Regions from separate parts of the Homo sapiens genome. Here regions 1, 3 and 4 are each linked to region 2. Evidence: fine-mapped expression QTL. A gene starts in region 2. Each other region holds a variant in brackets. All regions are shown on one strand. Distances are between the middles of the regions. Region 1 overlaps GRAMD2A (GRAM domain containing 2A). Region 2 holds the start of CELF6 (CUGBP Elav-like family member 6). Region 3 overlaps HIGD2B (HIG1 hypoxia inducible domain family member 2B). Region 4 overlaps HEXA (hexosaminidase subunit alpha).

The links. PIP is the estimated chance that this variant, and not a neighbour inherited with it, causes the effect.
Region 1: its variant is fine-mapped to the expression of CELF6 in whole blood (TOPMed, PIP 0.99).
Region 3: its variant is fine-mapped to the expression of CELF6 in whole blood (TOPMed, PIP above 0.99).
Region 4: its variant is fine-mapped to the expression of CELF6 in whole blood (TOPMed, PIP above 0.99).

The regions. Positions count from the first base shown.
Region 1 is chr15:72,166,837-72,174,939 of GRCh38, forward strand. It overlaps GRAMD2A (GRAM domain containing 2A), which reads right to left. Exons shown (of 12, transcript NM_001012642.3): 2 at 3,011-3,103; 3 at 2,103-2,160; 4 at 1,655-1,730; 5 at 900-1,003; 6 at 158-256. LOC124903522 (a long non-coding RNA gene) reads left to right here. Exons shown (of 3, transcript XR_007064706.1): 3 at 3,056-4,565. Among named protein-coding and RNA genes, the nearest start is that of GRAMD2A, 27 kb to the right of the region's middle. RefSeq lists an enhancer at 1,572-1,866. The variant T/C (reference allele first, on the strand shown) is at 3,654.
Region 2 is chr15:72,316,561-72,324,663 of GRCh38, forward strand. CELF6 (CUGBP Elav-like family member 6) reads right to left here and starts at 3,597. Exons shown (of 13, transcript NM_052840.5): 1 at 3,053-3,597. The coding sequence starts at 3,314. RefSeq lists silencers at 3,284-3,623, 3,684-3,733.
Region 3 is chr15:72,671,226-72,679,328 of GRCh38, forward strand. It overlaps HIGD2B (HIG1 hypoxia inducible domain family member 2B), which reads right to left. Exons shown (of 3, transcript NM_001350932.3): 3 at 4,573-5,162. The coding sequence starts at 5,149. The coding sequence ends at 4,829. Among named protein-coding and RNA genes, the nearest start is that of HIGD2B, 11 kb to the right of the region's middle. RefSeq lists an enhancer at 1-510. The variant T/C (reference allele first, on the strand shown) is at 4,956.
Region 4 is chr15:72,339,417-72,347,511 of GRCh38, forward strand. HEXA (hexosaminidase subunit alpha) reads right to left here. Exons shown (of 14, transcript NM_000520.6): 11 at 7,111-7,294; 12 at 6,819-6,909; 13 at 6,030-6,134; 14 at 1,508-4,724. The coding sequence ends at 4,661. Among named protein-coding and RNA genes, the nearest start is that of CELF6, 23 kb to the left of the region's middle. RefSeq lists an enhancer at 2,942-3,441. The variant C/T (reference allele first, on the strand shown) is at 4,585.

The sequences.
Region 1 (8,103 bases), 150 kb before region 2:
GAACTTCTCTTCCAGCTTGTTGTACGGCCTGAAATACCTACTGGAGAGCTGCAGGGTGGGGTGAAATAAAGACCTGGGAATGTGCCCGAGTCAGACTGTGGGCTGTCAGGGCTGGGAGCGGGAGACTGACAAGGGAGCATGGGCCCAGTGCACTGACCTTCTGGCTGGTGTTGGTGGTGATGGCCAGTCCATTGGGAAGGAGCCGTGCCATCTTGTGTTTTTTGATCATTTGCACAGACACCACAGGAATGACCACCTGAGAGGGAGAGGGATGCTTCTCTCAGGACTAACCCCCAAGGACGTGGTCCCTTTGCTCCCTGCCTAGGGACCCAGCTGTGAGCCCAGCATGGCCACCATGGGGAAGCCTGGCCCCATGTGGGGAAGTCTCTGAACCTTCTACCTTTTCATCCAGGCTCCCCTTCCAGTTGTCCCTGCCACCCTGCCCCAGCCTTGGCAGGATGTGTCACTCTTGGCTGTCACATAGGTATGATCCCTGTTATCCAGGAGGCCAAGGATGGTGGCTCTGGTAAATCTCATACTCTAGTAATGGAGCTCCCCAGGCTACTTCTTGGCCACAGCTAGGGCTCCGCCTAAATGTGATATCCCACTCTGATTCTCAAAGCATTTCTGAAATACCCAGAGGCAGAATGATTTGGCTGTGAACTGTTCAGGCCAGCTCAGGCCAGATGTGGGGTCCAGATTGGGCCCCTGTTTTTGAAGGGGCAGGACTACTTTCCTGGACACTGGATGGGATGCCTCGAAGCTGCGCATCCAACCAGCAAGGGGCTTCACCCGGGGCCCAGCACGCAGAGAGATAGGCATGACTTTGAGGCATGCCCGTGGGGCAGGAGGCTGGCTCCCCTCACAGGGTCATGGCAGCCCTCACCACTCATTACTACCTTGATATCCTTGCCAAAGAGGCTGGCATGGAAGCAGAGCCAGTTGGGGGAGATGTAGAGCCGGCCCTGGAGGAGGAAGTCCCTCTGGAGGGCACAGGAACACACTAGGATGTCACAGGAGAGAAAATGGCCATAAGCAAGGTCAGCCCAGGAAGCCCCAGGACCTGGGTCCTCACGTTCTGGAGTCCACAGTCCAGCCTCAGGACCTGTCTTCCTCAGACTCCCCCTTCCCCACCGCAGGCCCCAAACCCCAAACAGTCCATTCCCCAGCGTCGAAGGGTCCTTCTCCTGACTGCTCCTCCACTCCACCAGCCTGCTGGATGTTTCTTCCTTCTCCACCCTTGCTCCAGAGGGTCCAGGCAAGTTCCTGCCCTGATCTCCAAGCCTGCATTCTCACCACCTCAGGCAGAATCCCTGACCTTTCCCTGCTCTGCTCTGCCCCAAGGGCCTTGATTGTGCAAATGCCCCCACCTGCTCAGTGAGAGGCCAGAGCAGGTAAGAAGTCACCAGTAAGAGCAGGACACAAGATTCCAAAGCCCTGACGTTTCCCCAAGAAAACCTTCAAAAATGCAATGCTATGTCCAAACCAGCCCAGTCTTCTCACCAGCCCAGTCTTCTCACATTCTAGGGGAGTGGTCCACATCTAAAGGACAGCCAGTTCCCATTTCTAAGTCGTGCTTTGGAGGCTCCAGAGCAGAGGCCCCTGGCCCCAGGCACTCTGGGTGCCTAACCAGCTATACCGGGAGACAGCTCACCTTTGAGAACCACTTCCTCCAAGGGAACATCCTTAAACAGCTTGTGGTATTGCTGGTTGTATTTATTCAGTGTTATCTGCAAACACACAGGCTGCGTCTGAGAAGCGCTGGGAGATGAGACCGCCAAAGGGGCCCTGCTCCAGCCAACAGGAAATGCCACAGCCCCCCGGCCCATGCTGGGGACTTAGCATGAGGCAGCTAGTAAGCAGCCAGTGAGTATGGAGGGCTGTGTGCCAAGCACAGCTTGTCTCCTGGTGCTGCTAGGTCCTGACAGGCAGCTTGTACTAGCAGAGGGGGACACACTACTCCCACCCAGGAAGGGATACACACTCAGGTCTCCTGATTTCCTGATGACAGGCCCGGTGGCCAAGGAGCCAAAAGTCACTGAATTCTGGCAGCCCAGGACCCCTTCCTGGGTGAATAGTGAGAAGTCAGCCTCCAGACTTACCCCTTCTCGGCCACACTTCTTTATCTCTTCACCCTTCAAGCCTTCTGGCCAGTGCAGACTGCAAAGGAGACATTCCATTTCGGGAACAAGGAACCCCAGTCCTGCCCATGCATCCTCAGTGCCAATTCTGCCCTGGCCTTGAGCCAGAAGCTTGAGGCAGAGATCAGAGACTAGGACCCTTCTCTAGGGGACACAGCAAAATGACAAGTACAGCGAGCACACAGCTAAACTATACAGCTCATCCCTGGGGGAGGGCACTGCGGGAGGTAGAGAGGGGTCGCCAAGGGCCCACCTTCCCCAGTGCGGGTGAGCAGCATCTCCTGGAGGTGCGCCTGGTCTCCCAGAGATGCTGAGGAGCTTCCCACCTGGGTGTCAAAGACCCTGTCCCATTTCTCTGGCCAAGGGGTAAGCAGGGGAGCAGGCAGTGCTGGAATAGGGACAGTTTGGGGTGTGGGTGAGGTGAAGGTGTCAGACTCACAGCGCCGGGGCCTGGCCACAGGCCATGATGCCAGCAGGACTGCCCTCCCTGCCGCCTCCTTCCTGTGGCCTGAGCTCTGCTGCGGGGAGCTTGGCACAGACTCACCTGACCTGGCTGAGGCTACCACACTGGGAGAGGGGGATGGCACTGAGAAAAAAAGGTAAACCTTTGCCTTGGCCAGGTTGGCCCAGAGCACAGGTGAGCAGGGAGGAGGCTGGAAACCCGAGAAGCATGGACTCTGCTAGGTCCCAGTGCACTGGGACAGTCTTGAGGGGCGGGAGGAAGAAGCCTGGGGCAGCCTGTGCCTGACCTCACAGACCTGCAAAGGGGCCCCGGCTCTGCCTTGAGGTCCTCTTACAAACAGGTCACTTCCTGAGGGCTTCCCACCCTCTAGTCTGTGTGTATCTATGACTGGGAAAGGGGTCCTCACCTGTAGTCCGGGGGCTCCTCAACTCTGTCTGGTTTCTCTTTGCAGGACACAGGACTGTTCAGAGAAGCTGTCTTTCTGTGCATTTGTTGGTTGCTAGGGAAAAACAGGCCCATATCAGGAAGGGGGCTTCATGAGGACACCTTTCCCTAACAGCCCCACCATGCCCATGGCCGCTGCCTCTGGCCCCCACCCAAGACTGGCCCTGATATTGAGGGTGACACTGAAAATGTCACAGTTCAGAGGCAGCAGCGCAGGCAGAGGTTCTGGGATGGCTGACGGAGTAGGCGGGTCTCACACAGCGTCTTTCCCGAAAGCCAGAAGTTCTGCTTATGCCTAGGCTGGGAGGAAAATCAACCTGTCTACCTCATCTCCAGTGCCAGGCAGCTCGTAGGCCAGGCTGAGTGAGGCCTCTAGCCCCACCCTTGAGGAGGCACACTGAGAGGGAGGACCCTGAGACTCGCTTATGCCGAGAACAAAAGTGTCCAAAGTACCCGCGCAGCATGACTGTAAACCATCAGGTTCCGGGAAAGTAGGCTGAGCACAGGAGGCCTTATCAAAGCTCAGGAGCTGATGCGCTGAAGGTGTGGGAGGTGGACGCCCATCAGCCTACAGGTGAGTGTGGCCAGGAGGGGAGGAGCCGTCT[T/C]ATACCAGGAAGTGGCCTCAGCCACCTTGGACAGTCAGGACAGCTTGATGATGAGAGCCAAACCATCTCAAAAATGTCCCTGAGGGAGAGCGTAGGAGGGAACAGATCCTCTCTCCCTGGGCAGGTCGGGCTCTCCAATGGCCTTTGAGTTCCTGCCTCCACTAATCGCTCCAAAGAATCATTACCCTGTTCCTGCTCCTCCAGGCTACACATCAATAAAGCCTGAGCCGTCAAGCCAGCCCCAACCAAGTGGGCCCAGGGGCTGACCAAGAAAGAGAGGGTGGCCAAGAAGCAGGGCCGTGCTGGGGCAGTGTGGTGGTCAGGAACAGGTAACAAGGTCACGTGCAGTGGTCCTGCTGCAGATTAGGAGCTGGAGCCTGGAACCTACAAATCTCAATGCTCAGTCACCCTCCGCTCTGTGACTGAGGCCAGCCAAAGTTCTCTTCTTCAAGAACAGAGTTTTCGCCTCAGCCCAAGATCTGCCAGGACCCTCAGAGATTGATTCAGCCTCACCCGCTCCCACCATACCATTGTACAGATTATGAAACTGAGACCTGCCAAGGGACAGGCTGTGTCCGGTCCTACAGTGAACAGCCAGTGACCTCACCCACAAAATCAGCCCAGCCATGGCCATGTGGCCTGGTTACCTCTGTCCTCAACCTTAGAGAGGATTTTGCCACACATATCAACATATACCTACAACAGTCTTGTGAAGTGACAGATTTTGCTAGAGATTTGACTCTCAAAGTTGATTTCTGGATTTATTTGGTTCCATCATGTCACATTTCACAGAGGTTTTTTTTTTTCCCTTGATTTTTAAAGATTATAGAAAATATGAAAAATATATATAAGATCAAAATCACCTAAAGATTCCCCAAAAATCACCCAAATAAAAAATGTATGATAAACATATAACCTATGTAAATGGTTATATAATCTATAATTTGTATACCCTACTTCTGTGGCTTAACCTGATTTCATGAGAAATTTCCCATGTCACTCACTGTCCATTCCTAAGATAGATTCTCAGAAGTGAAATTAGTGGATTGAGAATGAACAGATGCTGTTCCAGTTAACCCAGCCATCAGCACGACATGAAGGTGCCTGTTTCCCCATATTCATGCCCTTCTCTGGATATTGTCTCTCGCTCACCTTTGCAAATCTGATAGGTGAAAATACGTTGTCTTCATTTGTATTTCTGCTTACTGGTAGGTTGAACAGTTTTTTCCAAATAATTATTAACCACTGGAAGTTCATTGTCTTATAGAGAATTCACAGGTGAAATTCTTTCTTCATTTGTATTGAAGTTCTTTCTTCATTTGTATAAATTTTTTCTGGCTTTTTTATTTTTTTTTTTTGAGATGGAGTCTCTCTCTGTCGCCCAGGCTGGAGTCCAGTGGCGTGATCTTGGCTCACTGAAACCTCCACCTCCTGGGTTCCAGCAATTCTCCTGCCTCAGCCTCCCAAGTAGCTGGGACTACAGGCGTGTGTCACTGTGCCTAATTTTTGTATTTTTTAGTAGAGACGGGGGTTTCACCATATTGGCCAAGCTAGTCTCGAACTCCTGACCTTATAATCCCCCTGCCTTGGCCTCCCAGAGTGCTGGGATTACAGGCATGAGCCACCACGCCCGGCCTTTTTTTTTTTGAGACAGGGTTTCACTCTGTCGCCCAGGCTACAGTACAGTGGCGCAATCTTGGTTCACTGCAGCCTCAGCCTCCCGAGCTCATGTGATCCTCCCACCTCAGCTTCCCAAGTAGCTGGGACTACAGGAATGCTCCACCATGCCGGGCTAAGGTTTTCATTTTTTTTGTAGACAGCGGGGGTCTCACTGTGTTGTCCAGGCTGGTCCTAAACTCCTGAGCTCAATCGTCCCACCTCAGCTTCCCAAAGTGCTGGGATTACAGGTGTGAGCCACCATGCCTAGCCTTTTTTTTTTTTTTTGGAGACAGAGTCTTGCTCTGTCACCCAAGCTGGAGTGCAGTGGTGTGATCTCAGCTCACTGCAACCTCCGCCTCCCAGGTTCAAGTGATTCTCATGCCTCAGCCTCCCGAGTAGCTGGGATTACAGGTACCTGCCATCACATCTGGCTAATTTATTTATATATATATAAATTTTTTAGCAGAGATGGGGTTTCATCATGTTGACCAGTCTGGTCTTGAACTCCTGATCTCAGGTGATTCACCTGCCTTGGCCTCTCCAAAGTGCTGGGATTACAGGTGTGAGCCACCATACCTGGCCTGTAAATTCTTTATTGAGAACGTTAATCCTTAGTTTATCATTTTTGTGATGTTTTCCCCAGTTTGTCGTTTCTCTTTTGTCTGTGGTATTTCTGCTGTGCCTGTGTGTAATTACTGCATGGGAGATTCCATCTATTTCTTCCATGTATGTTTCTCGCTTGGTCTCAGTCCTCTCACAGGACAGGCCTGGGGGGAGTAGATATGCAAGTCAGACCACTGAGCCATTACAGCGTGGGCCTGGCAGTGAATCCATGGGGCCGCCAGGGAAAAATTCTGTGGGCTCAGCTCTGAAGAACCTGCATCCCAGACTGAAGGATGGATGAGGGATAGAACGGGATGACAATGGGAAGGAGCTTGGACAGTGCTTTCAGAGGCAGGGAGCCTGTTGCTTGAGAATGTGAGTCAAATTCTCAGGACTGCAGGAGCTCAGAGGATGCACAGATCCCTGGGAACTGAAATACAGTGGGGTTCCTAGAGAAAAGGAAGCTGAGCCTTAGAAACTGGGTATAATTATAATCTTGCATGGATTATCTAATCTTGCATAGATAACCATGTCTTTGCATGGATTCTAAACCAAACACATCCTTAGGTTCAAATGTGACTGTCTCAGGGAGAGAAGCCTTCCCTCAGCCCTCCCCCAGCCTAGGTGAGTAGTCCCTGCTTCAGATACTCACTCACAGCACCCTGATCGGAAGTCTCTGCTCAGCATCTGTCACACTGTGTCTGTGTGCCATGACTGTGCATCTCCAGGGGCTCACAGACTCTGCCTGGTCCTTCATTGAATCCCCTGAGTCCAGTGCTGAGCATGCAGCAGGCGCTCACGACAACTCCAGGGAGGAGCTTTCCTGCCTTCAGACCAGGCTCAGCCACCAAACCCGGCCAACTTTCAAGTCTCTTTAAATTAAAAGCCAACTCCTGGCCAGGTGTAGTGGCTTATGCCTGTAAGCCCAGCACTTTGGGAGGCTGAGGCAGGTGGATCACCTGAGGTCAGGAGTTCAAGACCAGCCTGGCCAACATGGTGAAACCCGATCTCTACTAAAAATATATAAATTAGCTGGGCATGGTGGCGGGCATCTGTAATCCCAGCTACTCAAGGGGCTGAGGCAGCAAAGTCGCTTGAACCCGGGAGGTGGAGGTTTCAGTGAGCCGAGATCACACCATTGCACTCCAGTCCAGCCTGGGCGACGAGAGTGAAATTCTGTCTAAAAAAAAAAAAAAAAAAAAAAAAGCCAACTCCTTTACACATGATCAAGAGGATGGTTGCAAGCCATTCCTTTCTGTTTGCCCACTGAAGCCAGTTCCTCCTGTCTCTCTGCTGATAATGCTCTTGGCTCAGAGACCCTGCCTATGGCCAAAATGAGTAAACCTGCCGCGCTCTCAAAACGATCTTCAGTTCACTTTCCACTCAATAGTGGTGTCTTCTCCCCTGTAGTGTTTATTTTGACGAATGAAAATAAAGAAATGGGAGTAGTGCCACCTGAAGAAGTACAGGGCAGACTGGTCACTGAGCACTCACCAGCAGAACCACTCAGGCAGGGGACACCCAGTGACCAGCTGGGCCCTGACCCAGAGGGCCAAGAAGGAGGCTTCAAGAGCACAGGGCTCAGCCTGGTCCCCCACCCTGCAGGCAGCCGCTGTAGACTCTACTCACAGACTTTTTGTCGCGCTAGGTGTTCATGCCCTGTGGGTTGTGAACCACATCTCCTCCCGCTCTGTCCCATCCAGTCCCGTCCCATCCCCATGCCCCAGCTGTGGAATTCATGTCAGGAGTCCTGGAAGCCATAAAAAACTACCTAATTTCTGTCAGGAGAGGTATGGAGCAGGGGAGTGGCAGTGTTTTGACATTAAAGGAGGTACAAAAGATTGGAAATCCTCCGATGAGGCCCTTCCCCTGGCTGAGCATGGTCTGAAGGCAGGAAGGCCCCTCCCTAGAGGGCACAGGAGGTGTCTGCCTGCTCTCCAGCCCCATGCAGCAAAAAATACTCCCTGAGCTTTTCACATCATGAGGCAGGTAGGGAGCTCCCCAGCCTGAGAAGCTGCCAGAGGGCAGGGATGGCACCAGCACAGGGAGATGTCAAGAATGGGGAGACAGGGCAGGAGAGGAGGGGGCAATGAGTGGGAGCCCAGATACACAGGAGTCTAGGGGCCTCGTGGTGCACCTGACACAGGCATTCTGCTCTGCACACCTCCCCCAGGCTCCAAATACCCAC
Region 2 (8,103 bases):
TCCTAGGGCTTTGAGGTAGGGCCTCTTAAAGAGTTATTGTGCCTCAAATCTGGCTCCTCTAAAAGGGCCAGCATATATGGGTCAGCGAAGAGGTCTAGGTTGAGCCAAAGGGTCAAGTTTAGCCCTCTGTTTGTTCAGCCTCAGGACCTGTAGCCTGCTAGGAAGCACTGAAGCAGCACTCTCCTCCTTTCCAACAGCCACTGAGCACTCATTCATTCAGAAAATATTTATTGAACACTTACTTATTATGGTGGGGCATTTTGATGACCTTGGAGATAGAGTGGCAACAAGACACACATTCCCTGCCCTCATGGGGATTAGACAAATCATGAGGGACCCCTAAACAAGTCCAAAGGGTTGAGTAATGTCTCAAAGAAGGCACTGAGTCCTCGAGAACAAGAACACTGAGTCCTTAACAATCAGGTGATGAAAAGGACAGTGATTATTTCAGACAGAGGGAAAAGCATATATGAAGACTGAATCAAGAATTTGGTGTGTTGGGGAAATGGATAGGTTAGTGTGGCTGGAGGCTGGTGTATGGGGGCAGAGTGGCTAGTGAGATATGCAGGAATCAAGTCATATGTAGCCTTGTGGGCCTCAGTTGGATTTTGAACTTTTTCCTAAGAGCAATAGAGAGCCACTTTAAAGGGTTTTAAGCAGATCTGTGAGATGATAAGATCTGTTTTCAAAAGGAGCATTCTGAGTGTAGGAGGGAGAAGGACTGAAGGAGGAGAAAGTGGATATGGTGAGCCATTAGGAACTTGGGGCAGATTTCCACTTAGACCTCAGCAGATTAGAAAGGCAAATGGGAACATTTTTTTCTGGCCTCTTCTACAGGGCTGCCCCATTAAGATGGGTTTATTGCCGGACATTCATTGAGTTAAAGGGAACTTAGAGAACTGAGCAAAACTCTTATCACATCAACAGGGAAACTGAAGCCCAGAGAGTGGGTCAGTGGCAGGGCAGGATTTGGAATGTCTTAACTCCCAAGCTGGGGTTGTTTTCAAAGCACTGTGGCTGCCTGCCTCGGTACCCAGACATCAAAAGGAAAATGAGTCACTGTTTCTGGGGAGAGGATGAGGAAGATGTTGACTTGGAGACCCTCTACAATCATCTTGGAAGGCAACACTTGCCTTGGAGAGTTGTGATTTAGTTTGGAAATAAATCACCAAACACCTGATTCCACTTACATCCCTGCTCTGTGTTTTGCTACCAACCCATATCACCTGACGTCCAAACCGGGCAGGTTGCCTGTCTGAAAGGCTCAGGGGCCCAGTTGCTGCCTAAAGAAGCCCCATGTGGACTAGCCGGGATAGAGGGTGGAAGAATGAAGGGAAGAAAAGACAGAGAAGCATGGTTTGAGAGACAGATGAATGAAAATAACAGGCAGAATTAGAGCTAAATGAAAAGAGAGAGGATGAGGGAACAGTTCAGAGACTGATAGTGAGAAGAGTGAGATTTAAGGGTATTCTATACACTTCCCTTATTGTACGGATGGCCTACAAAGATTAGCTTTGTATGTACATCCTGAAATCAATGTCTAAAAATAAGAAAATGAGTTACTACAGAGGGATGGACAGACAGGCAGGTAGTGGGAGTGCATTAGAAGGACTCTAGATGGTGAGGTATTGTCCTTTCATACACCCATTAACACAATCCCAGCCCAAAGGGTGGAAGCTGTACTCCTAGCCAGATGGTCCTAGCTCTTCTATTGGCATTTTCTCGAAGTGCCTACATTAGTGTGCCAAGGAACCCTACGAGGCCTCCAAGTTGAAGAGGTGGCAGTCTGATTCCAGCTCTCAGTCCTTAGGAATGTACCTTTAGCTGTTACCCAAGGCCCACCACTCCTCTCTTAGGAAGATCATGGAGGATAGTTGGTGACTCTTTCCCAGCAAAAACTTGAAAGCACAGCATGGTGGTGGTGGTGGGGGAGGAGATAAGAGTGTTCCTTCTCAAATCATCTCCCCTTCTCCTGCCCATGTATGACATGTGACTCTGGCTCTCTTACTCCAGCCCTGCCTGGACAGACTTTTCTGCATGTAAACAAGCCTCCTCCCTCTCTCTACAGGAAGAAAGGGGTGTGGCCGAACAGGACCGTGTATCTCTCTAGAAAGGGCAGGGAGAAGATCTCCTTCTGTCTCTTCAGCCTGACTCACCCTGAGAATGGGCCTGGACTGGGACCAGCCTGTGAGGGGAGGGAAAGAAAGAGGCCATAAAGAGGACTGGGGAGGAGCAAAGAAGAGGCACAGGAGTGAGGGGATTAGAGAAGGAAAGAAGTGTGGATTTAGCTGAGAGAAATCCAAGAAGAAAGGGACACAGGGTGGCAGGAGTTCCCAGCTGAGGTCAGGGTTCTGAACTGAAATCAAAAGAGGTAGAGTGCATTGGGATTCTGGCGAAGGGCAGGAGAGATTGGGGCTGTTGTTGAACATGAGGGGGTGTCTGGAACTGAGAGCCTCCTGGGAATTGAATTGGATTTTGTGTTAGACAGGTCTGGGTTCTGAAGAAGGGGAGGGTTTGGGTCTGCGGTGTTTTAGGTTGGCAGTCTGAGAGTCAAAAGAAGGCTCTTGAGGGGGATGGCCGGACTAGGAGGCCAGAGGAGGGGTGCAAGTCCAAGATATGCATGTGGGTGGTTAGGCCTGAGTGAGGTGCCACCAGATGGAGGATTCAGGAGTGTTTGGGCTCAGGGTTTGGGAAATTGAGGGTATTCGAGATCTAGAAGGTGGAATAAGTTTTCAAATTCCAGAATTTTAGGTCTGATGGGAGAGGTGGTGGAAAGGTCCAATTGAAAGGCAGGGACTGCTGGGATGTGAGAGGTGGAGGCCAGGAATTTGGAGGTTAGAGTGGAGAACATGTTAGGGGACCACAGTGATAATCAGAGGGAGGATGTCAGAGAGAAAATTCTGTGATCTGGGAAGGGGGCTGGGCTGAGGTGGGGCTGATATTGGACTGGTGTTGGACTGGCTCTCGGCAGGGCTAGGGCTGGGGCTGGGCTGGGGTCGGGCCACACTCTAATCGGATTGGGGCTGGGCTGGGCTGGGCTGACCCCGCGCACCTTTGTGGAGGCCGGTGAGCCGGTCCTTCAGCACCGTCAGCTCGTAGATGCGGCCGAACTCCTCGAACAGCGGCTTGAGGTCCTGCTCGTCCAAGCCCCGCGGGATCTGCCCCACGAAGAGCTTGATGGCGTCGTGGTCCTTCATGGGTACGGCGGGACCGGGGTTTAGCCCGCTCATGCCGACGCCGCTGTCCGCGGTGCTGAAACCCAGGCGCGGGCCGGGGCCAGCGGGCTGCGCTGACCCTCCCGGCGCCGCGGCCATGTCCCCGCCCTGTCAGCCCTCCCGCCGGTCCCACTGGTCCCGCCTGTCCCGCCGTCCCCTCCCTGGACCGGTGGCGAGGGCCAGGGGGAGGGGGCGGAGCCCGGGCGGAGAGGGCGGGGGGCTGCCCAGGGGGCGGGGTCCGGGTGGAGGGGCGTAGAGGGGGTGGGGCGGGCAGGAAAGGGGCGGGGCCGGGGCGGGGCGGGCCCGGGCCGAGGTGGCGGCTGAACGCTGGGGTCTGGCTTGAGGTCCCCGTGCGGCTCTCTCTGGGCTCCCGCCCGAGCTCTCCCAGAGCCGAGCCCCGAGCCCCAGCCCCCGTGCTTGGTGACGTCAGGCAGCTGGCCGCCGAGTCTACGCAAATGATTTGCATAATGAGGAAGCAGCCGCCAATCAGAGTGGGAGTTGACTGGGCTCGCCGGGGGCGGGGGGGGCGGCTGGGCTCACGCGCTCCTGCTCGCCATGGCAACCGGACCCTCGAATGCCCTGTGTGTGTCGAGTGTGTGCGGGCGTGGCCGTGGATCGCGCGTGTGCGCCTTGGGCCGCGTGAGGGGAAGCAGCTTCGTCATGCGTGATGGTGTCTGCCGGAGTCGGGGCTAATCCCCACCGCACACACAGGCACACACAGGCAAACGCAGGCACACGCAGGCACACACACCTCCAAACGCTGGTGCGTTTCCTGCGGGGGTGGATGGGGATTCCTCTTCTCTATTCCCACTATCGAGCCAGTCCCTCGGAGCCAATCCCACCCCGCCCCATCACACATCTCTGTCTTCGGTGTCTTTAACCACTTTCTTACCCCTGAGCCTCAGACACATTCGTCTCCCTTGCAGCCTTAAAAAGAAAGGAAGAATAAAATAAAAACCCCTTAAACACTCCTTGAACACGGATTCCTCCTTAGGAGAGTGAGGGAACTTAGCCGTATTTACTCAGAACCCATTATGCACCAGGTGCCCAGTTCATCCCAGTTCTGTGAACTCAGGAGTGTTCTCTTTTTCCGGAAAAGGAAGCTGAGGTTCTGAGGGTCGAGGATGTTAGGGCCAGGCCCACCCCAACATTTGTTGGGCCCAGCGCAAAATAAGAAATGGAAATCGACATACTGTGCATCTAAACATTTAAAAGATACAAATCAAATTACAATTTGTTAAATATGTTCCCCTCTTATTTTCACAAATACAGGTTCAGAATTACGAAAATGAAAGACATATGTACAGCTACGCTTTCTATATGACTGAAAGTTGGCAAAATATCAGAGCTGATGGAATTTTATTACTCCTGCACATGTCTAGGTATTCTCTTGATGGATCAGTGATGTTTGCACAAAGTAGTAATACAATGTTTGGACAAAGACACATACTTCATAAATTATATATTTATTCCATAATATATTTTTCATGCCTCTTTCAGTAAAATTGCTAATTATTTTAATAGAGATTTCCTTTTTTTTTTTTTGATAGGTTATCATTCTGTCACCCAGGCTGTAGTGCAGTGGTGCGATCTAAGATCACTGCAGCCTCAACCTCCTGGGTTCAAGCGATCCTCCCACCTAAGCCTCCCAAGTAGCTGGGATGACAGGTGCACGCTACCATGCCTGGATAATTTTTTTTCTTTTTTTTTTTTTGTAGAGATGGTGGTTTCACCATTCTGCCCAGGCTTGTCTAGAACACTCCTGAGCTCAAGTGATCCACCCACCTCGGTGCCCCAGAGTGCTGGGATTACAGGAGTGTGCCACTGCACCTGGCCTAATAGAGATTTTAACATAACTTGTGTCCATTGACTATTCTAAGAAACTGCTGGAGACCAGCAGTAGCAACTGGAATCATCAAAAAGTTCTTAAAACAATATTCAATTCAGAAGCAAATCATGATTTTTAAATGATTTATTTTTCTGGCTGAGCATGGTGACTCACACCTGTAATCCCAGCACTTTGGGAGGCCAAGGCGGGCAGATCACTTGAGGTCAGGAGTTCAAGACCAGCCTGGCCAACATGACAATATCCCGTCTCTACTAAAAATACAAAAATTAGCCAGGCATGGTGGCGGGCTCCTCCTACTCTGGAGGCTGAAGCAGGAGAATCGTTTGAACCCACGAGGTGGAGGTTGCAATGAGCCAAGATCGTGTCACTGCACTCCAGCCTGGGTGACAGAGTGAGATTCCATCTCAAAAAAAAAAAAAAAATGCAGCAGCAAATTATGATTTTCAAAAATCATTTTTCTGGCGGGATGCGGTGGCTCACACCAGTAATCCCAGCACTTCAGGAGGCCGAGGTGGGTGGATTGCTTGAGATCAGGAGTTTGAGACCAGCCTGGCCAATATGGCAAAACCCCATTTTTACTAAATGAATAAATAAATAAAATAAATTATTTTTCTCCTTTAACAGAAAGTTACTCCTTGTAATAAGTTGACCACGAAATGGGTTACTGGAATTTCATTTTCATTCAGTCCTATGTAGTTTTTTTTTTTTTTTTTTTTTTGAGATGGAGTCTTGCTCTGTCGCCCAGGTTGGAGTGCACTGGCCCGATCTCAGCTCACTGCAAGCTCCGCTTCCCGGGTTCACGCCATTCTCCTGCCTCAGCCTCCCGAGTAGCTGGGACTACGGTTGCCCGCCACTACGCCCAGCTAATTTTTTTTGTATTTTTAGTAGAGATGGCGTTTCACCATGTTAGCCAGGATGGTCTCGATCTCCCGAGCTCGTGATCTGCTTGCCTAGGCCTCCCAAAGTGCTGGGATTACAGGTGTGAGCCACCATGCCTGGCCCAGTCCTATGTATTTTTTAAAATTTTCACCCCAAAAGTAGTAAAACAATTCAAAAATCAGAACAAAGTTCTCTGCAGAAAAAGAAAAATACAGTAAAAAATTTCCTTGAGGCTTCCTCTTTGATCCATATATTATTTATAAATGTATTGTTTAGTTTCTAAGTGTTTGGAGGTTTGCCTATTATTTTTCTGTTATTGATTTCTAGTTTGAGTCCATTGTGGTCAGAACACACTGTGTATAATTTCAATTTTTTTTTTTTTGAGATGGAGTCTCGCTTTTGTCACCCAGGCTGGAGTGCAGTGGCGTGATCTTGGCTCACTGCAACCTCTGCTTCCCGGGTTCAAGCAATTCTCCTGCCTCAGCCTCCTGAGTAGCTGGGATTGCAGGCACCCGCCACCATGCCCGGCTAATTTTTGTACTTTTAGTAGAGATGGGGTTTCACCATGTAGTCCAGTCTGGTCTCCAACTCCTGACCTCAGGTGATCCGCCTGCCTCAGCCTCCCAAAGTGCTGGGATTACAGGTGTGAGCCACTGAGCCTGGCCTCAATTCTTTTGCATTTGTTGAGGTTTGTTTTGCTACCCTCAGTCCCAAGCCTGGGACTACAGGCGCCTGCCACCACACTCAGCTATTTTTTTTGTATTTTTAGTAGAGATGGGGTCTCACCATGTTGGCCAGGCTGGTCTCAAACTCCTGACCTCAAGTGATCCGCTCCCCTTGGCCTCCCAAAGTGCTGGGATTAAAGGTGTGAGCCACTGTGCCCAACCTTGTATTTTTAGTAGAGAAGCGGTTTCACCATGTTGGCCAGGCTGGTCTTGACCTCCTGACCTCAAGTGATCTGCCCACCTCAGCCTCCCAAAGTGCTGGGATTACAAGTGAGAGCCACAGTGCCTGGCCCTATATGCTTGCTGATTTTGTCTAGTTGTTTTATCAATTGTTGAGAGAAAGGTGTTGAAGACTTCAATTGTAATTGTGGATTTGTCTATTTCTCCTTTCAGTTCCATTAGTTTTTGCTTCACATATTCTGTAGCTCTGTCATTTGGGGCATAAACATTAAAAACTGTGATGCCTTGATGAATTGATACTTTTATTATTATGCAATGTCACTCTGTTCTTGGTAAGCTTTTTGTGTGGAGAGCTACTTTGATATTAATATAGCCATTTATGTTTTCTTTTGATTAATCTTTGCAAAATATACCTTTTTCTATCCTTTTACTTTCAAGCTACGTATATAGCTGTATTTAAGTGAGTTTATTTTAGACAGCATATAATTGGGTCATTTTTTTAAAGTCCACTCTACTAATCTTTGTCTTAGTTGACATATTTAGACCATTTACATTTAATGTAATTATTGGTATTACAGGTGTGAGCCTGTAATTTACATTTACATTTAATGTAATTATTGGTATGTTAGGGCTTAAGTCTGTCACTTAATTTTTTGTTTTCTTTTTGTTGCCTATGTTCTTCATTTCTCTTTTCTTTATCTTTCTTCTTGTTTTTTTGTTTTGTTTTGTTTTGTTTTTTTAGAGATGGGGTCTTGCTATGTTGCCCAGAATGGTCTCAAACTCCTGGCCTCAAGCAATCCTTCCACTTTAGCCTCCCAAGTAGCTATTATTACAGGCATGAGCCACTACACCTGGTTCATTTCTGTTTTATTTTTCCTGTGCTCTTGTTGATAAAGTGTTTCTTATTCTATACATACATAGCTTATCACAGTGTACCGGTATTGACATTTTGCCAGTTTGAGTGAAGTGTAGAAACCTTACCTACTATTAAGTCCCTTTATCCTCCCTCATTTATAATTACCTTAAGTATTTCCTCTATATATTTCAGAACCACTTTAGACAATGATATACAATCAGCATTTATAAAAAACTTCAGAAGCATTAAAGTCTATCGCATTTACCCACATTTTCCTTCTTTCAGTTGTTTTTTCTCCCTTTCTGACAGTCCAAGATTCCTTATTTTATCATTTCCTTTACATTTTAAGAACTTCCTTTAGCCATTCTTTTAGAGTAGTTATGTTGGTGACAGATTCTC
Region 3 (8,103 bases), 350 kb after region 2:
AGAGATGTCAGGTCACAGGCTGCCAGCACAGCACCCCCATGATTGGCCACGGGAGTGCTGGAGGAATGGTGGGGGTTGGCTGTCCACTGGCTGGGCATGACAGGGAGACTCACTGGAGGTGGTGCACTTTGGAGGGGCGATGTCAGGGATGTATTTGGGTCTCAGTAAAGAGATCTGTTCTTTTTAAATTTCTGCATCTAGTTGCCTATACGCGATGATGACACATAGCAACTTATTTTTTACTTTCTAAAGACAGGATATCATGCAAAGAGATCAAGCTGCCCTTCTATAAATATAACTCAATTGCCTTCCAGCCATAGGCTGCATGCTTCAAGTTGTTTTCAGAAATAAGAAATGGGTTGAGCTGAACCACTTATAGCCTTACATGGAGAGTTCCCACTGTGACCTGTAGCACATGTGAATTGACTTGCTTAATGTATGAAACCAATGGAAATGAGATGAAAAGTCCTATTCTCATGCAAGCCCGTTGGGTTATGCAGAGACACAGTAGCAGAGACACAGCCCTAACTACAGCCTGCCCTCCGGAAAACATGTGTCTGTTCATATGGAAATGACACAAGTCTAGTGCTTGTCTGAAAGTCATGCAGCAAAACAAAAAAAGTCTCTGCAAAACCGGGGAGAGTTTTTTACAATGACTTTAACTTTGAGGGTGCTCTTTAGCAGAGGCTTTTGATAAAGGAAGAATTCTATCAACCAGGATCACTGAGGAGGAATGAATTTATAACTACTCTTTTTAAGGCTAGAAGAGACCTTAATTAAATTCCTTCTATTTACAAAGGAGGGAACTGAAGTCCAGAAATGACAAAAGGTTTGGCAGCTTTAGAAATAAGGCAACATTGAGTTTCAGTATTCTAAACTTTTGGAAAGTGGTAAAAATGAAGGATATTGAACAAAAAATACTAGTTGTTTTTTTTCTATCTTGTTCAGTTAGTGTCAACATGCTGTAAGTTTTCATAATTTTTTTTTTTTTGAGATGGAGTTTGACTCTTGTTGCCCAGGCTGGAGTACAATGGTGCGATCTCAGCTCACTGCAACCTCCGCCTCCTGGGTTCAAGCGATTCTCATGCCTCAGCCTCCTGAGTAGCTAGGATTACAGGCATGCACCACCACGCCTGGCTAATTTTGTATTTTTTAAATAGATAGGGTTTCTTCATGTTGATCAGGCTGGTCTTGAACTCTCAACCTCAGGTGATCCACCTGCCTCAGCCTCCCAAAGTGCTGGGATTACAGGCGTGAGCCACTGTGCCCAGCCTATTTTTTTTTTTTTTTTTGAGACGGAGTCTTGCTCTGTTGCCCAGGCTGGAGTGCAGTGACGCAATCTTGGCTCACTGCAACCTCTGCCTCACAGGTTCAAGAAATTCTCCTGCCTCAGCCTCCCGAGTAGCTGGGACTACAGGCGTACACTGCCACGCCCGGCTAATTTTTTTTTGTATTTTAGTAGAGACGGGGTTTGACTGTGTGGCCCAGGCTGGTCTCAAACTCCTGAGTTTAGGCAATCCACCCACCTCAGCCTCGCAAAGTGCTAGGATTACAGGCATGAGCCACCGCACCCTGCCTGGTTAATTTTTATGATAATAAAAATATTCTCATAAAATTTGGGAAATTCCAAAACCTATGGAGAAGAAAATTTAAATTATTCATCATCCCACAATTTATTCATTTGCTTATTTGAGCAACAAATAAAAGTGCACACCTTATTAAGAGCAGGGCATGTTCCAAGACTGACTATCCAGAAATGATTGATAGCCTCTAACTGATTCCCTTCCAACCCATTTCTCAGTGCACTACTACTAATAATTTTAAAATCAGATTATTTAGTTTTGAAATCTCCTTTTCACCTAATATATCATAAGCCTTTTCCCAGGTTATCAAATAATATTCCAAGCTATGATTTTAACAGCTGCATAACGTCACATCATATAAATTTACACTGATTTATTAAACCATTGTACTTGGGACATAATAAGATGATCAATTTTTCAATATTATAAATAATGTTGCATGTAACATTCTTTGGCCACATGCCTGATTATCTTTGAAAACTTCCCTAGAATTCAGATTGTTAGATCAAAGCCTTAAATATTTTTAAGGTCTTAAATACACAATACTCAACTGCTTTCTTGAAAGACTGTAATAGTTTTACTTCTACCAGCTACAAGAGTGTCTTTCAGTCATGCAACAAAGCCCACACCTCAAAACAATGAGTATTAGCTTTAAAAAAGTCATTGTCAACTGAGTTCAAATGGTTTTTCCTTTAATTTGCAGTTCTTACTTGGCAATGGTTAAGTCAAACTTTCCAAAAAAAACTTTGTTCTCTTTTTTCATAAATTATATATGCATGCTTTTTGTCATTTTCTATGGAACTGTTAACATTTCTTCTTAGCATTCTAGTCTTAATATTTCTCAGTGAGGGATTTTTCTGACTGCATTCTGAGATCTAGGCTCCTGGCTGGGGCAGCAAGAGGTGGGATGGAGAAAGGGCGGGGAGTCAGAGTCAGGCTTGTTCTCTTAGTCCTTCCACAATCACCAAGGTGTGACCTGGGCCAACTCTTGGTATCTCTGGGCTTCAGTTTCCTCCTCTGTAAATAGAAGGGTCTTAATTAAGGTCCCTTCCAGTCGTATAAAAGGGAGTTAGAGATCCGTAGTTTCAAAGCTTCTTTCACTATCATGATTTGTGATCAGCTTTGAAGGAGGTAGTGCTAGTGGGTAAACATCAAACCATAAGCTTGTTTGCCAGTTCTAACCTACCACTACCACCTACCACTGAGAAAATCATTTCAAGGCTCTTAGTTTCCTGATCTGTAAATGGAAACCTCGTTTTACAGATTTGTTGTAAAAATTATGTGAAATAATAGAAATCAGGCCAGGTGCGGTGGCTCACACCTGTAATCCCAGCACTTTGGGAGGCTGAGGCGGGTGGATCACCTGAGGTTGGGAGTTTGAGACCAGCCTGACCAACATGGAGAAACCCTATGTGTACTAAAAATGCAAAATTAGCCGGGCATGGTGGCGCATGCCTGTAATTCCATCTACTTGGGAGGCTGAGGCAGGAGAATTGCTTGAACTCAGGAGGTGGAGGTTGCAGTGAGCCGAGATCATGCCATTGCACTCCATCCTGGGCAATAAAAGTAAACTCCATCTCAAAAATAATAATAATAATAGAAATCAAAGTGTATAGAGCATAATATACCACAGACAGGCAGGATGCAGTGGCTCCTGCCTGTAATCCCAGCACTTTGGGAGGCCGAGGCGGGTGGATCATCTGAGGTCAGCAGTTCGAGACCAGCCTGGCCAACATGGTGAAACCCCGTCTCTACTAAAAATACAAAAATTAGCTGGGCATGGTGGTGAGTGACTGTAATCCCAGCTACTTGGGAGGCTGAGGCAGGAGAATAGCTTGAACCTGGGAGGTGGAGGCTGCAGTGAGCTGAGATCGTGCCATTGCACTCCAGCCTGGGCGACAAGAACAAAACTCTGTCTGAAAAAGGAAGAAAGAAAGGAAGGAAGGAAGGAAGGAAGGAAGGAAGGAAAGAAGGAAGGAAGGAAGGAGAGAGAGAGAGAGAGAAAGAAAGAAACAAAGAAAGAAAGAAAGAAACAAAGAAAGAGGGAAGGAAGGAAGGAGACCATATTCATACTAGTAGCTGCTTATGACTAATAGAAGTAAGGATGAGGATTAGAAGGGATTTCAACTTTATAATACATTCTTTCCTTTATATAATAATAATGAAAAAGACAGCCAGTCACAGTAGCTCATGCCTGTAACCCTAGTGCTTTGGCTAAGGTGGGAGGATCATTTGAGCTCAGGAATTTGAGACCAGCCTGGGCCACCGAGCAAGACTCCATCTCTACAAAAACTTTAAAACAATTAGCCATGTATGGTAGCCTGTGCCTCTAGTCCCAGCTACTAGGGAGGCTAAGGCAAGAAAATCATGTCAGCCCAGGATGTCGAGGCTGCAGTGAGCTATGCTAGTGCCACTGCACCTGCACTCCAGCCTGGGTGACAGAGTGAGACCTTGTCTCCCTTTTAAAAAAAAATGAAGCAAATATAACAAAATATTAACAACAGTCAGTGTTGATTCTGTGGTAGGAACATAGTTGTTTGCAAGATCATGCTCTGTACTTTTCCGTATCTTAAAAAATTTCCTGGCCAGGTGCGGTGGCTCATGCCTGTAATCCCAGCACTTAGGGAGGCCAAGGCAGGCTAATCACGAGGTCAGGAGTTTGAGATCATCCTGGCCAACATGGTGAAACCCCGTCTCTACTAAAGATACAAAAAATTAGCCGGGCGTGATGGCGCGTATCTGTAATCCCAGCTACTCGGGAGACTGAGGCAGGAGAATTGCTTGAATCTGGGAGGCAGAGGTTGCAGTGAGCCGACATTGTGCCATTGCACTTCGGCCTGGGCAACAGGGCCGAAGTTGCACTCCAGCCTGGGCGACAAGTGCAGCCCATCTCAAAAAAGAAAAAAAAAATTCCCCCTTCCCATACAAATATGCCTAGCTCATAAAAGCAATCCTAAAAGATTACATACAGTATGTGTGTAATTTTTTACTTTTTTCTTATTTTTAGAGTTTATTAAGCAGGGGAGTGGAGGGAAGATGTGGCACAAATAGAAATATGTAACATTCAAACAACAGAATCTGGGATTTTTGAAAAAATCTTTCAGTTATGGTTACAGGAAGGGTCACTTCCTCCCCCAACGACACAGGGACCTCTCAAAGGAGAGGAGAGAGTAAGTCCCATGGTAGGGCCAGTGGTTGCTCCTGGGTTTTGGAATGATTTCTGCAGAGTTTTCAAGACCCTGGGCTCAGGGTGGAGACTTCATAGCGGTGGCAGCTAGACCCAGCAAGATGGCTGCAATGGTGAAGCCCTGGGCGGCGATCTGGGTGTGCATCATAAGCCGTGAACATTGGCTGTTGCCCTGGTGGAAGCAG[T/C]AGAGGCCGTTGGTGAGGACGGCCGCCGTGCACAGGAAACCTATGGGTACCACCGGATTCTCGCGGGTCTTGCGAAGGAACTTTTCCTTGAAACCCTCTGGATTGCTGTAAACAGTGGGGCTAAGCCCCTCAAAGATGGGGGGCTTCGATGATTCAAAGGGGGCCTCCGGAGTCACAAAGCCGAGAGTCGCCATGCCTAGGCCACAGCTGCAGGAGAAAATCCTTTGTTTTTTTTTTTTTTTGAGAAGGAGTCTTGCTCTGTAGCCCAGGCTGGAGTGCAGTGGTGCAACCTTGGCTCACTGAAACCTCTGCCTCCCTGGTCCCAGTTAAAGCAATTCTCCTGCTTCAGCCTTCCAAGTAGCTGGGATTACAGGAACATGCCACCATGCCAGGCTAATTTTCATATTTGTATTTTTAGTAGAGACGGGGTTTCACCATATTGGCCAGGCTGGTCTCGAACTCCTGACCTCATGATCTGCCTGCCTTAGCCTGCCAAAGTGCTGGGATTACAGGTGTGAGCCACCATGCCCAGCCTACATGTTTTATATAATGTTATTTGATATAACAACTTGGAAAGGACAAAATTATAGAAATGGAGAATAGATTAGTGGCTGCAGGGGTTAGGAATGGGGAGGTGGTGGGAAGGAGGTATATGTTTATTAAAGGGTAATGACAGGGAGGCTTATGGTGATGGAACTCTTCGTATGTTGACTATGGTGACAGATAGGAAAACCTACACGCGTGACAAAACTGCACAGAACTAAATACACACAAATGAAGTAAAAGTGGGGAAGTCTAAATCAGATTGGTGGACTGTATCAATGTTAACATTCTGGCTGTGATATTACACAATAGTTTTGGAAGATGTTACCATGGGATAACTGTAGAAAGGGTATATGTGATCTGTCTATTATTTCTTATGACTGCAGGTGAATCTACAATTATCTCATAAGAAAAAGTAAGAAGAGGCCAGGGGTGGTGGCTCACACCTATAATCCCAGCACTTTGGGAGGCCGAGGCAAGCAGATCACTTGAGGCCAGGAGTTTGAGACCAGCCTGGGCAACATGGTGAAAGCCCATCTCTACTAAAAATACAAAAATTAGCCGGGCATGGTGGCACACTACTCAGGAGCTACACAAGAGGCTGAGGCAGGAGAATCGCTTGAACCCCGGAGGCGGAGGTTGCAGTGAGCTGAGATCACACCACTGCCCTCCAGCCTGGGTGGGCAACAACAGCAAGACTGCAAGGGAATAATGTTCTGTTTGGGAAAGAGACTGCATGTAAATAGGGGGTCTGGTAGGTGGGCATGGTGGCTAACACCTATAATCCCAGCACCTTGGAAAGCTGAGGCAAGAGGATCACTTGAACCTAGGAGTTCAAGACCAGCCTGGGCAATATAGCGAGATTCTGTATCTATAAAAAATGAAAAAATTAGCCAGGCATGGTAATGCATGCCTGTGATCTCAACTACTCAAGAGGCTGAGGCAAGAGGATCAATTGAGCATCCAGAAGTTGAGGCTGCAGTGAGCCATGATCATGCCACTGCACTCCAGCCTGGGCAACAGGGCAAGACTGTATCTCTAAAAATTAAAAAAAAATAAAATAATAAATAGAACATATAAAAGTAAATAAAAATTAAAAATAGGGATCTGGAGCTGGTAGGGAAGAAACAGAGCTGTATGGGAGAAAAGAATACTTTTCCTTGTTGATATATGGTCTGTGTCCCCTTTTTCTCCTCTTATTTTCTTTTGCATTCTTGCTCTGATTGACTTCTTTCTCAAGTGCCTCTTCTCTCTGACTTTCCCTGTGTCATTATTTTCCTCAACTCATTATTTTCCCTCTTTGCTTTGCTAAAAGACTCTATCCCTGCATCTTATTCAGAGCACACTGACTGCACTGGACAGGAGTTACAAGAGGGAAGAGGTACTCATAGAATCCTGGATTTCTAAAACACTTAAGCTACAAAGGTTGGTGAATATCAGAGTCCAATAGTCACATATTACACAGAGGAAAACTGAAGTGCTGAGAAAGGAAATAACTTGTGTCACTCACAGAGGGAATTTTTGGTAAAGTTGGAATATAAGCCTGGGATCCACTAGAACAGCTTCCCTAATTTTCTTTTCTTTTTTTTTTAGACAGGTTCTCACTCTGTCACCCAGGCTGGAGTTTGGTGGCATGATCAAAACTCACTGTGGTCTTGACGTCCTGGGCTCAAGTGATCCTCCTGCCTTAGCCTCCCAAGTAGCTAGGAATGCAGGAGTGTGCCACCATGCCTGGCTAATTTTTTTGTATTTTAAGTTTGTAGAGATGGGGTCTGGATATATTGCCCATGCTGGTCTCAAACTCCTGGACACAAGTGATCCTCCTACCTTGTGCTCCCAAAGTGCTGGAATTAGAGGCGTGAGCCACTACGCCTAGCCCTAGTTTCTATAATTTTCAACAGACGGAGCTCACTAGTTGGAGAAAAAGAGATTCCTGGGGGCAGCCAATTAAAACATAGAGAAATTAGAGCAACATGGTGAGAGAAATAATCTGATCAGGTGCAGTGGTTCGCGCCTGTAATCCCAACACTTTGGGAGGTCAAGGCAGGAGGATCACTTAAGCCTTGGAGTTTGAGACCAGCCTGGGCAATATGGCAAAACCCCATCTCTACAAAAAATAAAAAATTAGCTGAGCATGGTGGCGCATGCCTGTAGTCCCAGCTACTCAGGAGTCTGAGGTAGGAGGATCGTTTGAGCCTAGGAATTCGAGGCTACAATGAGCCATGATTGTGCCACTGCATTTCAGCCTGGGTGACAGAGCAAGAGACTTTGTCTCAAAAATAGAAAAGAAAAGAAAGAAAAAGAAAAGGAAGGAAGGAAGGAGGGAAAAGAAAAAAGAAAAAAAAAAGAAGGAAAGAAAGAGGGCAGCCAGGCGTAGTGGCTCACGCCTGTAATCCTAGGACTTTCGAGGTGGGCAGATCACCTAAAATCAGGAGTTTGAGAGCAGCCTCGTTAACATGGTGAAACCTCATCTTTACTAAAAATACAAAAAATTAGCCGGGCATGGTGGCACACTCCTGTAGCCCCAGCTACTAGGGAGGCTGAGGCAGGAGAATCGCTTGAACCAAGGAGGCAGAGGTTGCAGTGAGCTGAGATTCTGCCATTG
Region 4 (8,095 bases), 23 kb after region 2:
ATTGATAGCACATTGGTTGGGATGAGGATTAAATACATTAACATCCAGTAAAGTGCTTATAATAGTGCCTGACAGGTCGGGCTTGGTGGCTCAGCCTGTAATCCCAGCACTTTGGGAGGCCAAGGTGGGCAGATCACCTGAGGTCAGGAGTTTGAGACCAGCCTGGCCAACATGGTAAAACCCCGTCTCTACTAAAAATACAAAAATTAGCAGGGTGTGGTGGCACATGCCTGTAGTCCCAGCTACTTGGGAGGCTGAGGCAGGAGAATTGCTTGAACTCGGGAGGTGGAGGTTGCAGTGAGCCCAGATTGCACCACTGTATTCCAGCCTGGGTGACAAGAGCAAAACTCCATCTCAAAAAGAAAAGAAAAAAAAAAAAAAAACAACAAAAGTGCCTGACACAGCAAGCACATAAAAATGACGAAGCACTTTTGTTCTCCTAGCTGGATCTCCACATCTATCTTCATTCAGATTTCTGACTCATGTGAGTCTAGATAAACACCAGCAGTTGAGTTCCTATGTTCAAATATCCTCTTTCATAATAGATCATCCAGACACTCAGACACACGCTCTCACTCACACACTCTGCAGCACACCAGCGAGCATGGCACCCCTTCCCATCTGTGTCTGCCTGCCAGCTGCTCTTCCTCCTTTCCCACACACACTCCCTTTTTTGAGTGGCTTCCAAAACATCTCTTTCTAATTTGCTATAAAGAGTGAGCCATAAAGAATTTATTAAGTGATGAAAAAAATCACAGCTAAGTATCAGATTCTCCAGAGGAAATAAGATTAAAAAGAAATTCTGGAAAACAGTTGTTTTTGGAGAAGGGAATAGCATTGGGAAGGGGGATATTAATAATGTTTCATCTTTTTTGTTTAAAAAAAACAAATCTGAAGCAAATATGACTACTGAGATGCAACAAAGCTGGGTGGTTACACTGTTTACTATTTTCTAGACTTTTCTGTTGTTTGAAACATTTGAAATCACTAAAAAATAGGAGTATTTACTGGGATAGTTTAGACTAAACATGGGTGTGGTTAGAGTACAGTAATTACTGTGAAAAAAGCAAGGTTCCTGGACATTTAAATTTTTTTCTTTTTTTTGAAACATGGTCTCACCCTGTTGCTGAGGCTGGAGTTCAGTGGTGTGATCATGACTCATTGCAGCCTCAATCTTCCAGGCTGAAGTGATCCTTCTTTCTCAGCCTCCTGAGTAGCTGGGACTACAACCACACACCACCATTCTTAGCTAATCTTTTTAATTTTTAGTAGAAATCAGGTCTCACCATGTTGCCCAGGGTGGTCTTTAACTCCTGAGCTCAGGCAATCCTCCCACATCGGCCTCCCAAAGTGCTGGAATTAGAGGCATGAGCCACTGCACCTGACCCTGACATTTCGATTTTTAAAAATTTTGTTGAAAAACGTCACACACACACACACACACACACACACACACACCTGCTTCAAAGAGGATTTTTAAAAACAATGGTGGCTCGGCTAGAAAAGATACTAATTTTCAACCTTTATTTCAAAGTTTATTTATAAAGGAAATACAAATTTTGATAAACAAAGCACCCAATTCCTACTTATTTTTTTTCTTCGTGGAAAAAAAAGTATGTGACACATACTTGTCATGCCCTGTATTGATTAAGCTTACAAAAGATATTGACAGAAACTATACAAATCTAGAATTTAGAGTGCTAGGAATGTTGCCATAAGGTATGTGTACCTACATTAATACTAAATAAATTCCACCTACATCCTTTCTTTCACCCTTTCCCAGTATCATTTCAGCTTTCCTCACAGTCTCACTGTCCCAGAAGTCTAGGGGCAATGACTCTCCATCACTAGTGCTGTGGTGGCACCTGTGCTCCCACATCCTGATATCCTACCCCTACGGCAATCCTTTGAGAAGCACCTGAAAACACCAGTGACCTAGCTTTATTAGATTCCTCGAAGGGAAGGTACCTGGCATGCAGCCTCAGCTCCTACCAAGGAGAGGAGAGGTTGAAGACTCTCCCAGTCTCCATTCACTCCTTTGCTTTGATACCCGTTAGGCCTGCTTTGCCTCCTTAATAGACTCCTGGAATGGGAAGGGGTGGGGGTGGGGAGCGACTGGAGAACTCTTTTCCTAGGATGACTGGAGCCAGGAAGTCAGTCTGGAAACTTCCCCACCCCCTGGTGGTGCACAGCACACAAGATGGCCTGTGTTCCGCTCAGGGGTGGGACTTTCAATTTACAGCCTAGGTGAAGGGAGATGAGTTGGGGCAACAGCGATTCTGTTCATTGGAACAGACTGGGTGGTAACTGCAGGCCACTGCAGTTGACCTGTTGGCATTCGAGGTCTGACGACCTTCAGGTAAATGCTCTTATGATCAGTGGACCAAAGGAGCAACGGTGGAGGGTGAGGAACAGCACACTTTACCAATGAAAGTCGTGACCAGGCCACGTTAGTTTAGTGGTAAAAATAATAACATTAAAGAAAATGTTTACAACAGGAATAGAAAATGACAGAACCCTACTGCTTTAACTCAAGTGTATCACGATCTCTGCCTTCATCCACTTGAGACTTAAAACTCAGTGTCTGCTATTTTTACTTAACATTATCCCAAGCAATAGTAACATGAAAGTTATGACCAGGAGGGAAGCAGGGTCGCACCTGTGCAGGGTCCTTGTCTGCGGACCACCCCTCCTACAAGCTTCTGGGTAATAGAGGTAAGGGGGCTCCTGTGGTGGGTGCCAGTGCTGGGACCTTAACTTGTGTATCTGGGCTATAGCCCTGGACTTGGCTAGGCTGGGCTGTGTGAAAATTCCAAGAATTCTGTTGGTAGAAAATGCCCACCCTGTCCTTACAGGAACAGCACAAGGCTAGGCTTGTCTACCTCCCACCAGGACCTCGAAGGAACATGACCCAGGGGCTGAAGGATGGTGTTGAAGGACCGAGTTTTACTCAGATCCTTCTCAGCCCTGCCTTCCTGAAGTTTCTGTATCCACTACACTGGAAGCTTTCTGAAAAAAATGCCTGGAACCTGTCCATTGTTACCCCAGCCCAGGGCCCAGCCAAAGAACTTAACAAATAACCGCCAAGGAAATCCTCACCTAAAATGGCTGCGATGCATTACTGCCCCCGCCTCTGGCTTACAGTATCACTTCTGCATCTGAAACCAGGAGGGGGCAGTCTGGGTCCACGACGAGACATTTCCTTCTAGAGAAAATCACACCTGCAAAGACCCTCTCCAGAGCCACCGCCCACCTCCGCGCAGCCATCCATTCCCTGCGAAGATGCTTTGGGCTGAAAATGGTTGGGAGGAGGGGGATGGAAGTCGCCTACGTTATTTTGGAATTGACCAGGGCCTCTGAGTCCTTCAAATTCAACAATTTACCACAGGCCCGCGTGCGGTGGCTCACGCCTCTAATCCCAGCACTTTGGGAGGCCAAGACAAGTGAACATCTGAGGTCATGAGTTCAAGACCAGCCTGGCCAATATAGTGAAACCCCATCTCTACTAAAAATAGATGAATTCGGCCGGGCGCGGTGGCTCACGCCTGTAATCCCAGCACTTTGGGAGGCCAAGGCGGGCGGATCACGAGGTCAGGAGATCGAGACCATCCTGGCTAACACGGAGAAACCCCATCTCTACTAAAAATACAAAAAATTAGCCGGGCGTGGTGGCGGGCGCCTGTAGTCCCAGCTACTGGGGAGGCTGAGGCAGGAGAATGGCGTGAACCCAGGAGGTGGAGCTTGCAGTGAGTCGAGATCGTGCCACTGCACTCCAGCCTGTGTGACAGTGAGACTCCGTCTCAGAAAAAAAAAATATATATATATGAATTAGATGGACATGGTGGCACGTGCCTATTAATTCCAGTTACTCAGGAGGCTGATGCACGAGAATCGCTTGAACCCAGGAGGCAGAGGCTGCAGTGAGCCAAGATTGTGCCACTGCACTGTCAGCCTGGGCGACAGAGTTTTTGAGACAGTCTCAAAAACAAAAACAACAAAAAAACCCACTACCACAGTGCCTAGAGAACAATATGTGTTTAATAATATTTAAATAATGGTTGTATAAAATTGAAGCAGCAAGAAACCCAAAGGAGAATAGCTCTAGGGGAGGGAGGTGGATGAGTATGCATGGGGGAGAGGCTCTTCTGTGACCAGGTTGGGTCTGGAGCCCTCCCCACTGTCCAGAACACCTCCAAGCCCCTACATCTTTTTCCATATACCAACGCCTTGGAGATATAATGCAGAAGTGAAGTGAGCAGGCTGAGGATTAGGGCAGGTGTCTGGAATATGGTCAGGAGTGGGAGGGGAGTGACATAGCTCACAGGCAAGGCAGAACAGCACAAAGGCTATAGGTTTCATTCCCAGCCCTCAACTTAAAAGACCTCAGGGGCAGACACTGACTCCAGCCTGGCTGTGCCCTTACCCTAACGCCATTCACACTTTTTTTTTTAAACACAGGTAATCCATGTTTATTATAGAAAAATGCCACATTACTCTTTATTGAATGCGAGCGCCAGCACCGGCCCCTTTCTCTCCAAGCACAGGGGCACGCAGGCAAGGGGCACGAAGGCAAGGGGCTCCGTC[C/T]CCTGGCCAGGATGCAGTGGAAGCCTGGCTCCACTACCATTCACCTACAGCCAGCACCCTCCTCGGTGCCTGGGGCTCAGGTCTGTTCAAACTCCTGCTCACAGAAGCCTACATTGAGGGGTTGGGCCTGGACACCTCGCCTGCAAGAGGACATGAAGAAATGGCAAGATAAGCCCCTCAGAAGGGGCCCCAGCAACACTTTTCACACCAGTCAACAGTCTCTCCTTCCCCATTTCGGTGACTCTCAAACTGTCACTGTACACCAAATGCACCTGGGAATCTCAATTCCAGAGATTCTCACCTGGGGTGGGGCAAAGTATTGGCAAGAATCTGCAAGCTGAACAGGTGCCTCAGGTGATTCTGATACAGGTCTTGGAGATCCAGAAACGTTGGCGACATCTATTTATATCCTGCCCATCTCTGTACCCTAACCCCAAATAACTCAATCCCTTTAGAATATAGATGGATGTCTGAAAGGCAGCCAATGCTCTTGGTCTACTTAGCCCTCTGTTCCTGACTCTAAAATGCTGTAAATATGGTGGCACTGGGGGACTTAGGTGCTGTCCTGTCCATGAACATGGATGCGAAATCCTGTCCTTGGGTCTCAGTCTATAACCTGACCAATCTCCTTAGGGGACCTCTAGGCATGCTTCCCTTATCATCCAAGTAAGCAACATGCTTAGAGAACCAGCTGGAAGTTACCCAGTGAATGACATAATTGAGGCTTAGACACCATCATGCTTGACTCTCAGCCCAGGACTCTGCTCTGCACTAGGCTATGTCCCCCAAGTACTCAAGACCTAGCCAACGAAGGAATCAGGGAAATGACTATCTTACACAGGCACATCCCTGACAGAGGCAAAGGTGTCATGACATCCTGTAAGTCAGCCTGGTTCAAATCCTGCTTCTTAGTGACTTTGGGCAAGGTCCTGAACTCTGTGCTTCAGTGTCTATCTCTAAAATGCACCTGTCTCATGGGGCTGTGGTGAAGACTAAATGAGACAATATTTGTAACAAACTTAGCACAGTGTTTGCCACAAAATACAGTTGTCCCTCAGTATCCACAGGGGATTTGTTTCAGGACCCCCGTGGATACCAAAATCCAAGGATGCTCAAGTCCCTTATATAAAAATGACATAGTATTTGCATATAACCAATGTACAACTTCCCATATACTTGAAATGATCTTAGATTACTTATACCTAATACAATATAAATGCTATGTAAATAGTTGTTATACAGTATTTTTTATTTGTACCATTTTTTGTTGTATTTTTTTTTTCCTGAATACTTTTTATCGCAGTTGGTTGAATCCGTGGATGAGGGCTGACTATAAGCCTCTGTAAGTGTTAGCTATTGTTAATTATTGTCTTCCTCTCTCTAAGGGGTTCCCCAGCCCTGGATCTGGCCTGCTCCGCCTTGCGAAGGCCCCACAGCTTGCTTACCTCAGCAATTCACAGCGGAAGTGTGACAAACGTTCATAGGCAAATGTCAGGTCAGATGTCAACTTGTTGCTCCACAGCCTTTCGGCAACAGCCCCTGCTCTGGGCCTGGAGGAAAAGGGGCATGTGCCAGATTGGGCCCTGTATTCCCTGCAAAGGTGCTGGACATCCACAGGCTGCTACCTCTTGTCTAGGCACCCTGGACTCACTCAGGCCAAAGGAAGTGATCAATACCTTGTTATGAGCCACAGCCAGGTTGGATGGCTCCCAGAGAGTTCTACGGCTCAGCTCCACCTTCATTAAAATGTGGGTAGCAATCCCACTCTCTTCCTCTCTCAAAGATATGGGAATAAGAATAAACCTTAAAGCCATCATTAACCACAATGACAGTGGCAGCAGCAGAGGTCCTTAAAATGTAAACTTTGCACACCCAACCATACTTGGTAAGGCTGCAGTGAAAACAGCAGAGGGAAGCCTTATTACAGGAATCATGGATGCTTGTGCTGGGTCTTGAGCAACTCACCTATGTTCTCCAGGCCTCATTATCTCTCTGGGAAGTAAGGTTAACAATCCCTATCCCACATACCAAAGGGCAGCTGGAGGGATATAGACGGAAGTCATGTGGAGAGTGAATATTGCACACAAATCTTCAGAAGGCTCGTTGCACGGCCTGCTCTCTCTCAGGCCTGAAAGAAGGGTACTAGTCCAGAGGTGGCTAGATGGGATTGGGTCTCTAAGGGAGAACTCCTGCTCTCAGGCCCAACCCTCCACCTCCCCCCCGAAAACCCTTACCAGAGCCTGGGGACCAGGTTTGTGTTGTCCACATATTCTCCCCACATACAAGCCTCTCCACCAATCACCAGAGCCTTCTGCTCAGGGGTACCTGAGGGAAAACAAGCAACAACAGTCTGGTGATGGTGGGGTAACTCCAGGGTCCCTCTCAACCACCTTCCCAATGTGGCCCTCACCCCAGCTAAGTTGTTTCATTTACTAACTGGAAATGTCTGGCCCAGACCTTCCTGCCTCCCATCCTGTGCCCCAACCCAGCCTCCTTTGGTTAGCAAGGAGAGCTCTCTGCTTTCACCTTCAAATGCCAGGGGTTCCACTATGTAGAAATCCTTCCAGTCAGGGCCATAGGATATACGGTTCAGGTACCAGGGGGCAGAGAGAAGGGCCCGGAAGCCGGCCTTGGTGACCAGTTCCAGCTCCTTCATATAGTTCACTGGAATATCCTCTCGCCACACCTGTATGATTGTGTCTGGCTGAATCTGTTATAAAAGGTCAAATGGCAGTAAGGACACAAAGCTGAGGAGATTCCTGGGCCTTATTCATACACAGGCAACATGGGACAACAGGTATGTGCTCCCTCTGTTCCCCAGCAGCAAAGTATGTCTCTGTGACTCCTGACCATTGAGCTCACACCTCAGGACAGAGGCCAAGGAATCCAGGGCCCTAAGAGGCCTCCCTGCAGCTCTCCTCCCCGTCCCTCTGCAGCCTCCCTGTCCACACAGAGCTAGTAATACCAGCTGTGAGCTGAGGGAGGCAAGCAGTGGGACCCAGGAGCTGCCATGTCCAAAAGTCTCCAGATGTTTCTGGGGACGGGACAAGGTTCCTGAAGAGTCCTTGCATGTGACAGGAGACTGGGATCTTACTGATCAACAATAAAGGAGAAGGTAACCTTGGTCCCACAGACCCAGAAGACCCTCATCTATGATTTAGGAAGAAAAATCCAGCCTATCCAAGTAACCTAACAGCAGAAATAGTTCTTAATTAAGTTTGTAGTGAGGGAAGATAGAAACTCTGACACATAAACCCAGGGCTCATACCACAGCGGCCTTTGGTTTTTTTGAGGCAGGGTCTCACTCTGTTGCCCAGGGTTGAGTGCAGAGGCACATCTTGGCTCACAGCAACCTCTGCCTCCTGGGCTCAAGCAGTACCCCAACCTCAGCCTCCTGATTTTTGTATTTTTTGTAGAGATGAGGGTTTTGCTATGTTGGCCAGGCTGGTCTTGAACTCCTAGGCTCAAGCAATCCCCCTGCCTTGGCCTACCAAAGTGCTTGGATTACAGG